Linked DNA regions of Homo sapiens: all the other regions are linked to region 2. Evidence: fine-mapped expression QTL. A gene starts in region 2. Each other region holds a variant in brackets. All regions are shown on one strand. Distances are from middle to middle.

Region 1 (2,500 bases), 510 kb before region 2:
AATTTTGTGTTTTTAGTAGAGACGGGGTTTCACCATGTTGGCCAGGCTGGTCACAAACTCCTGATCTCAAGTGATCCACCCACCTCGGCCTCCCAAAGTACTAGGATTACAGACGTGAGCCACCACCCCTGGCCAATATTTTTTAAAAGTTTGTAGTTAGCCTTGAAGAATAGCTAGAGGATGGATAGCTTTTGGGTCCCTCTTCCTTTACTTTTTTTTTTTTTTTTTTTTTTTTCAGAGATGAGTTCTCCCTATATTGTCCAGGCTGGTCTCAAACTCCTGGTCTCAAGCAATCCTTCTGAGTCAGCCTAACCGCAAAGTGCTGGGGTTACAGGCATGAGCCACTGCAGCTAGCCAAGCTTAGCTTTTAGATGACTAGGTTTGAATTAGCAGCACAAATACAAATTACTTAAAACAACCCTAAACTTCCATCTACCAAAACAAAAGAGAGTAGACTTCCTGGTAACACAGGTCTGGGCAGTTCTAGGTTATTTCCTAAATTGTCCCCTTTGGTTTTCTGGGTATCAGAGGAACATGCAGTTGTCTACAGCTGTCCTTTCTTTTTGTTTTCTCTCTTTCTTTTTTTTTTTTTTTGAGGCAGGGTCTCGCTCTGTTGCATGGGCTGGAGTGCAGTGACACAATCTTGGCTCACTACAACCGCCGCCTCCCAGGTTCAAGCAATTCTTATGCCTCAGCCTCCTGAGTAGCTGGGATTACAGGCATGAGCCAACATGCCTGGCTAATTTTTGTCTTTTTAGTAGAGATGGGGTTTCACCATGTTGGCCAGGCTTGTCTCGAATTCCTGGCCTCAGGTGATCTGCCCACCTCAACCTCCCAAAGTGCTGGGATCTGGACTACAGCTGTCCTTTCTGCAACTGGAAGCAAATTAATGGACAGGTTTTCCCCAGCCAGATCCTTGGGCTTGTGTGTTTAATTTTTTAACTAAAAGCATCACGTGCACTTGTATTAAAAGCAAAAGAAAAAAATCAAATTTAAGAGAAAAAAAAACCCTCCACTCCACTTCAGAGGCACTACGTTTATTTTTTTTATTATTTTTTTTTTGAGATGAAATTTTGCTCTTGTCGCCTGGAGGCTGGAGTGTAGTGTCACGATCTCGGCTCACCACAACCTCCACCTCCCGGGTTCAAGAAATTCTCCTGCCTCAGCCTCTCCCGAGTAGCCGAGATTACAGGCATGTGCCACCACTCCCAGCTAATGTATTTTTAGTAGAGACAGGGTTTCTCCATTTTGGTCAGGCTGGTCTCGAACTCCCGACCTCAGGTGATCCACCCGCCTTGGCCTCCCATAGTGCTGGGATTACAGGCATGAGCCACCACACCCTGCCAGAGGCACTACTTTTTTTTGAGACGGAGTTTCACTCTGTCGCCCAGGCTAGAGTGCAATGGCACAATCTCAGCTCACTGCAACCTCTGCCTCCTAGGTTCAAGCGATTCTCCTGCCTCAGCCTCCCGAGTAGCTGGGACTACAGGCTCCCGCCACCA[C/A]GCTCGGGTAATTTTTGTATTTTTAGTAGAGACGGGGTTTCACCACGTTGGCCAGGCTGGTCTCGAACTCCTTACCTCGTGATCTGCCCGCCTCGGCCTCCCAAAGTGCTGGGTGTGAGCCACCACACCTGGCGCAGAGGCACTACTTAAAAAAAAAAAAAAAAAAAAAAAAAGAGTTGAATAGGGCAGGCACAGTGGCTCATGCCTGTAATCCCAGCACTTTGGGAGGCTACGGTGGGCAGATCACAAGGTCAGGGGTTTGAGACTAGCCTGGCCAACGTGGTGAAACCCCGCCTCTACTAAAAATACAAAAATTAGCCAGGCGTGGTGGCGCATGCCTATAATCCTAGCTACTAATGGTGCTGAGGCAGGCGGATCACTTGGACCTGGGAGGAGGAGGTTTCAGTGAGCCGAGATTGTGCCACTGCACTCCAACCTGGGCAACAAAGCGAGACTCCTTCTCAAAAAAAAAAAAAAAAAAAAAGAATTGAATAACAGGATTGTTATATTTGTGCAGTACTTTACAGTTTACAAAATACTTTGACAAACATTAGGGGAGTCAACTACTTTTAACACATTGAAATGTAGTTTCTGCTATTTTCCTGTTTCTTTTTTTTTTTTTTTTTTTCGAGACAGGGTCTCTCTGTTGCCCAGGCTGGAGTGCAGTGGTGCAATCTCTTGGCTCACTGTACTGCATCTCTGCCTCTCAGGTTCAAGGTATTCTCCTGCCTCAGCCTCCCAAGTAGCTGGAATTACAGGCACTCACCTCTACGCCTGGCTAATTATTGTATTTTTAGTAGAGACAGGATTTTACCATGTTGGCCAGGCTGGTCTTGAACTTCTAACCTCAAGTGATCTGCCTGCCTTGGCTTCCCAAAGTGCTGGGATTACAGGCGTGAGCCACCACCCCTGGCCCGGATTTTCCTGTTTCTAATAACATGCTTATTGCTTTCTCTTGATTTATCAGTTTTACACATAATCTATTCAATTTTATTGTG
Region 2 (2,845 bases):
GCCACCATGCCTAGCTAATTTTTCCTATTTGTAGAGATGCGGGTCTCACTATCTTGACCAGGCTGTTCTCGAACTCTTGGGCTCAATCGTCCTCCCGCCTCCACTTCCCAAAGTGCTGGGACTACAGACGTGAGACACGACGCCCGGCCAGTATATTTTGTAATAATTCACGGAGTTGTATACAGTTGTGAATGTGAATTTTTCTACATGTATATTACATTGCGCTTTAGAAGTTAAAAACAAACAAACAAACAAAAAAACAGGGGCCAGGCGCTGTGGCTCACGGCTGTAATCCCAGCACTTTGGGAGGCAGAGGCGGGTGGATAACCTGAGGTCAGAAGTTCGAGACCAGCCTGACCAACATGGTGAAACCCCGTCTCTACTAAAAATACAAAAATCAGCCTGGCGGCGTGGTGGTGGGGGCCTGTAATCCCAGCTCCTCGGGAGGCTGAGGTAGGAGAATCGCTTGAATCCGGGAGGCGGAGGTTGCAGTGAGCCGAGATCGCGCCACTACACTCCAGCCTGGGCGGAAGAGCGAGACTCCATCTCAAAAAAAAAGTTTTAAGAAAACCAAACCTCACTTCAGATCATTCTCTAGGCATCATGTGAATGGTTTTCCGCATTAGATGATGAAAACACTGTTTTGGCAATCGGAGATTGGTACTTTCTAAGCACGGTGTAATGGAAAGACAGATCAGGAATCCGGAAGCCCTGGCTGTGATATTAAACAGCTGTGGCTACACCGCTCTGATCTCGGACTTCTCGCTCGAACCCATAAAATAGGTGTTGCCTATAAAGGCTCTAATGTTTCTCCCCTAGTTCTAAAGACTGAGGTCCACTTGTGTTTTCGCCCCAGCAGCTGAGGGTCGGTCGGGCGCGGACACGCCCTGCCACGTCCGGGTTTCACACTGCGCGCGGAGGCCCCAACTGCCGCTGAGCACTGGACCGGCCAGGACGCAGGTGGGCGAGGACGAGCCGCGGCTCTGGAGGGCCCAGCCTGCGCCTCACACACTCACCTCGGTCCGCAGCGCTCCTCTCTCCAGCAGGCCCCGCGCTCCGACTTCACCCCGCGGGCGTGGCACGCGCCCGACCCGCACGGCCCCCAACGCCCCTGGCTTACGCTCCACTTCTCTACTCGCTTGCCCCAGCCTTCTGCGCACAACCCAGATGAGTTGCAGTTCCCAGCTGCACGCCTCGGGAAGCGCCGCACTCTCCTTAGGGCTCGGTCTCTGGCCGCTGCGCGCGGTCCGCCAGCGGCTTTCAGAATTCCCGCCAAACCCTCTCGCCCAGGGTCACGCCCGCGTCGACGTAACGTATCCCCGCCTCCCGGATCCGCCTTCTCCCCGCTTCCGCCCTGCGCGCTAACCCAAGACGGGAGCTCGAGAGCTTGATCCTGCGCGAGTTTACAGACTGCCCTCTTCCCTTTTTGCGTAAGGACTAATTCAAACTTTATGCCGGGGGCGGTGGCTCACGCGTGTAGTCCCAGCTGCTCGGGAGGCCGAGGCGAGAGTATCGTCTGAGCCTAGGAGTTCGAGGCTAACCACGGCAACGCCCCTACTCCTACCCCAGTCCCTCGCGGGTGGGGCGAGGGATTTCAGGGGGCGGTGGGGGAAGACTTAACCGAGTTGCCGTCTTCTGTTTACCAGATCGAAGACCACGACTCCCAAGAGGTAATGCGTCGGCCCGGGACTACATCTCCCGGCATGCATCGCCGGCGGGTCCGCGAGTTCTCACCATCGCAGCTGGACTATTAGCGGGGGCCCTAGCGCTCTTGTGGTTTGTTTCGGCAGTATCTGAATGTCAGCTTTTGGCACTTCTGGTCGCTCTGAGCCTCCTACTCGCATTCCTGGAGCAAGGTGCTTTCCAGGCCTCATGGAGGTGGAGGAGCTGAGGAAGCTCGAGAAGATGGATAGAAGTGGGAAATGGAGCTAGCGTACGGGAGAGGGAAATGGCTGGAATATTCGTCAATCTGTGGTGCTTTACTGGAGATTTGCAGGAGTTCAGAGGAAGGGGGCATTGAATTTCATAACCTAAACCGTATCGTGGTTTACCAGAAAGTTTTGACCCGTGATTCCGGTTTTAAAGGCTGAGTAGGGCCGGGCGCGGTGGTTCACGCCAGTAATCCCAGCAGTTTAGGAGGCCAAGGCAGGCGGATCACCTGAGGTCAGGGGTTGGAGATAAACCTGGCCAACGTGGTGAAACCTCGTCTTTAGTAAAAAATACAAAAATTAGCCAGGTTTTGTGGCACATGCCTGTAATCCTAGCTACTCGAAAGGCTGAGGCATGAGAATCGCTTGAACTCAGGAGGAGGTTGCAGCCAACCGAGATCTCGCCGCTGTACTCCAGCCTGGGCGACAGAGCGAGACTGTGTCAAAACAACACCACAAGCTAGCTGAGTAGGGATTCTTGGGCGAAGTGGAAGACATTATAAGCAAATAGGGTAGTATGGGCATGGAAACGAACTACATGATTAAAGATTAGTATTATCTGGCGAGGGAGGAAAAGTGCCAGAGCAAGTGCCGAAACTGGAAGGTTACATTTAGTTCAGGATATGAAGATCATATAAGGCCTGCACGGTGGCTCACACCTGTAATCCCAGCACTTTGGGAAGCCAAGGTGGGGGAGGATCGCTTGAGCTCAGGAGTTGGAGACCAGCCTGGGCAACATAGTGGGACCCCATATCTCAAAAAAAAAAAAAAAAAAAATAAGCTGGGCGTGGTGGCTTGTGCCTGTGGTCTCAGCTATCCCGGAGGCTGAGGTGGGAGGACTGCTTGAGCTCAGGACGTCAAGGCTGCAGTGAGCTATGATGGGCCACTGCACTCCAGCCTGGGCTACAGAGTGAGAC
Region 3 (2,662 bases), 370 kb after region 2:
CACCACAGATGTACACTTGCCTTTCTGGTGTTAGCACTTCTTGAGTTATCTAGAGGCCAATGGTTGAAAGGTGAGGACAGTGATGCTATCAGGCAGCTTATCCTCACCTCAGTGCTTAGCCAGCTAAATGTTTGCAGTAAATCTTAATATTCATGCTTACTGGTCCCTTAGCTTTGTCAGCTAGGCATCTGCTCTGGTAAAGCACAACTTTTTCTCAGCCTGTTTAAGGTTGGCAAAAGGTGGCTGAGCTAGAGATCACTGTTCTTCCACCCCGGGATTGCTTCCCGACTAAGATGGATTCTGCCGCCCTTCGCTAATCAATTCATTCAAGCCATCAGGCACTGAGAACAGCAGGGCAATTGCTTTTTCCTCCTCAACCTATTCATCACCATCCATCCATCACACCTCAGACCACTTACTCTTCCAACCTCTACTCCGTCCCCACGAAGCACAGTAAGAGAAATGATCAACTTACACAGGCTTAGGCAGAGTTCTTAGGATGTATTTTTGTTCACCTGAAAAATAAAACTTTTTAAAAATATACAGGACTTTTTGAGTACAGGTATATCTTAAATGGCTGAATTATAAATAATGTCTCTGGTCATGTTCACAGCTAGGGCTGGAGCAAATGTCCCAATTCCAGTGAAGGCTTTGGAGAGTCAGGAGGCCAGCAGCTGGACCTATGAGTGGCCTCTCTAGACTCTCTGATCCATCCCAAAGAGGATTTAAACAGTCCAGAAAGCAGGGATCAGGAAGAGGACAGGGAAGTGGACTCCCAGATGTTCTACAAGTTCAAAGGATTCTTGGAATAAGAGATCAATTTACAAATTATTAAAATATAGGACTAAAAATTCACACAGTAAATATAAATTACAGGCTATTATTGAAGTTGTAAAGTGGCATTTTATGTTTCTTCCCCATCTCACACCAAAAATGTAAAGGCCTCATAGGCTTCCCAATGACTGAAGTCCTAGTCAGCTGCTAAGAAATCTGCTCTAGCCAAGAGACCCTGGAGGTGTTACCAGCCTGCTGGTAGGCTGTGACAGCTCAGTTGCTATTATCGTGCCCACAACAGGACATGGCTTAAAGCAAGGCTGTTGTCCTGTAAACTTGGATCAGAGCTAACTAGAGTATAGGCCAGAAAACTGGAGAGACAAACTGTTTCAGGACTCAGGTGGGTAAGTTGTCTTTTAAAAAAAAAAATAGTGCCTCATTTCCCAAAATGGAAACACTAAGGGATTTGATATCTCATCACTACCCACACTCAATTGCCTAAAAGCAAATGGCAGAAGGAAATGGAATCCAAATTGAGGAAGTCTAGTTCTTGCTACCCCAGAGCTACATGTATGTCATTT[C/A]TCTTGATGTTTCTCATCTCCTTTATACAATTACAGGCTGCATTTAAGTAGGGCTTATCGGGAAAAGTAAAGACAGCCAATTCAACCTTCCCTCGGCTGGTCTATTAGCTGGTTCTCAAAGCACAATCCTGAGTGTGAAGCCCACCTTCCAGCCTTTCTGATTCTGTAGAATAACTCAAAACCAGAGGATGTGTAATCAAAGCTCTGGTGTTACAACAGATTTCATCCCAAATCGCCGGGCTTTGTCACTACAGGCTCAGGAAAGAGGGAAGGCAAAAGTGATTGCCGGAACAAGACAACATTTTGAGGAGCAGGAAAAAAAAAAAGATAAAAACACTTGCCACTCTACTTACAAAAGCTTGCTCTTCCTAAAAGAATTCTGTGAGGGGAAGGCCAGGATTGAAGCACAGCAGCATTGCTCTTTCCCTTCCTTCCTCCCTGGCCCATATCCAGATACTGAGGGCTGCAACAAGAAGCCTCTTTGGTGGGGGCACTAGGATGGAAAGAAGAGGGGATGAGTACATTCCCCACCCTCCCTAAATTGTTTCTACTTCTCCTAAGGCTTTCCACAGCCATGTCAACAGTCTAAGAATGATTATACTCTTTTGTGAAAGAACGTCATAAACTTATATTTCAGAAACAGGAGGGGAACAGGAGAAAGTGAGTGATTTAAGAAGCCGTGTTTGTGCCCTTCTGGCCAGGTGTACTTTTTGGGGGACAGCAAATAGCCCTTGCTTGACCCCTTCAGTCAGTAGCTACCCAGGGTGTGGGAGGATATACATAGAATTCTATGTGATTATAGCTTCTAGTGCATATGTCAACAACTATATACAGGGATCTAGAAATTTAATGCATCTCTGGCCACTGCAACTAGGTTGACGTACCTGAGCTCCACTACTTTTGGTGCCCTCCTCCTTTCGAGAGCTTCAGCTTACTTAAAAAGAGCCCCTACAGCTCCATCCTTCCCCTGAGTCTTGGGGGAAAGCCCCAGTCACCCCTGCATGTAGGATACACCAGAGCGAGCGGCGCAGAAGGGTTTGGTGCCGGGATCTCCCCACCCCTCCCCCCATCCCCCTACGGCTCAGGGCCCTGGTGCAGCACGGTCCTGGGCAGCAAACCCCCAGCCCCCCGGCGAATCGTGGTCCCTTGGCTGAAGATCTGGCTGCGGGCCTCCCGCTCCGGGGCCAGCCGGCGATGGTGGGAGTGTGAGGGGCGTTCACTCTCGTGGGGGTCACTCCCGCGGGCTCTCCACCCCATCCTGCTGCGAAGTCCTGCCTCTGGGCTTGGGGAGAATGGTTCCCGGCGGC

Alleles and levels. Alleles are on the strand shown, and positions count from the first base shown. SD is a standard deviation of normalised expression in the study named. Not every link is listed here.
For the expression in lymphoblastoid cells of the gene that starts at base 1,268 in region 2, allele C in region 1 goes with a lower level than allele A (moderate effect, 0.72 SD a copy in GTEx).

Evidence for each region.
Region 1: its variant is fine-mapped to the expression of RAD51 in lymphoblastoid cells (GTEx, PIP above 0.99).
Region 3: its variant is fine-mapped to the expression of RAD51 in whole blood (TOPMed, PIP above 0.99).

What each region holds. Positions count from the first base shown.
Region 1 is chr15:41,206,105-41,208,604 of GRCh38, reverse strand. All of the region lies in intron 7 of EXD1 (exonuclease 3'-5' domain containing 1), which reads left to right. Among named protein-coding and RNA genes, the nearest start is that of EXD1, 23 kb to the left of the region's middle. The variant C/A (reference allele first, on the strand shown) is at 1,503.
Region 2 is chr15:40,693,597-40,696,441 of GRCh38, reverse strand. It overlaps RAD51 (RAD51 recombinase), which reads right to left and starts at 1,268. Exons shown (of 10, transcript NM_002875.5): 1 at 1,017-1,268. RAD51-AS1 (RAD51 antisense RNA 1) reads left to right here and starts at 1,337. Exons shown (of 2, transcript NR_040058.1): 1 at 1,337-1,430; 2 at 1,647-2,708. RefSeq lists enhancers at 1-423, 424-1,021, 1,059-1,118, 1,589-1,738, 1,619-2,216 and 1 more.
Region 3 is chr15:40,324,535-40,327,196 of GRCh38, reverse strand. It overlaps INAFM2 (InaF motif containing 2), which reads right to left. Exons shown (of 1, transcript NM_001301268.2): 1 at 482-2,662. Among named protein-coding and RNA genes, the nearest start is that of INAFM2, 2.2 kb to the right of the region's middle. The variant C/A (reference allele first, on the strand shown) is at 1,356.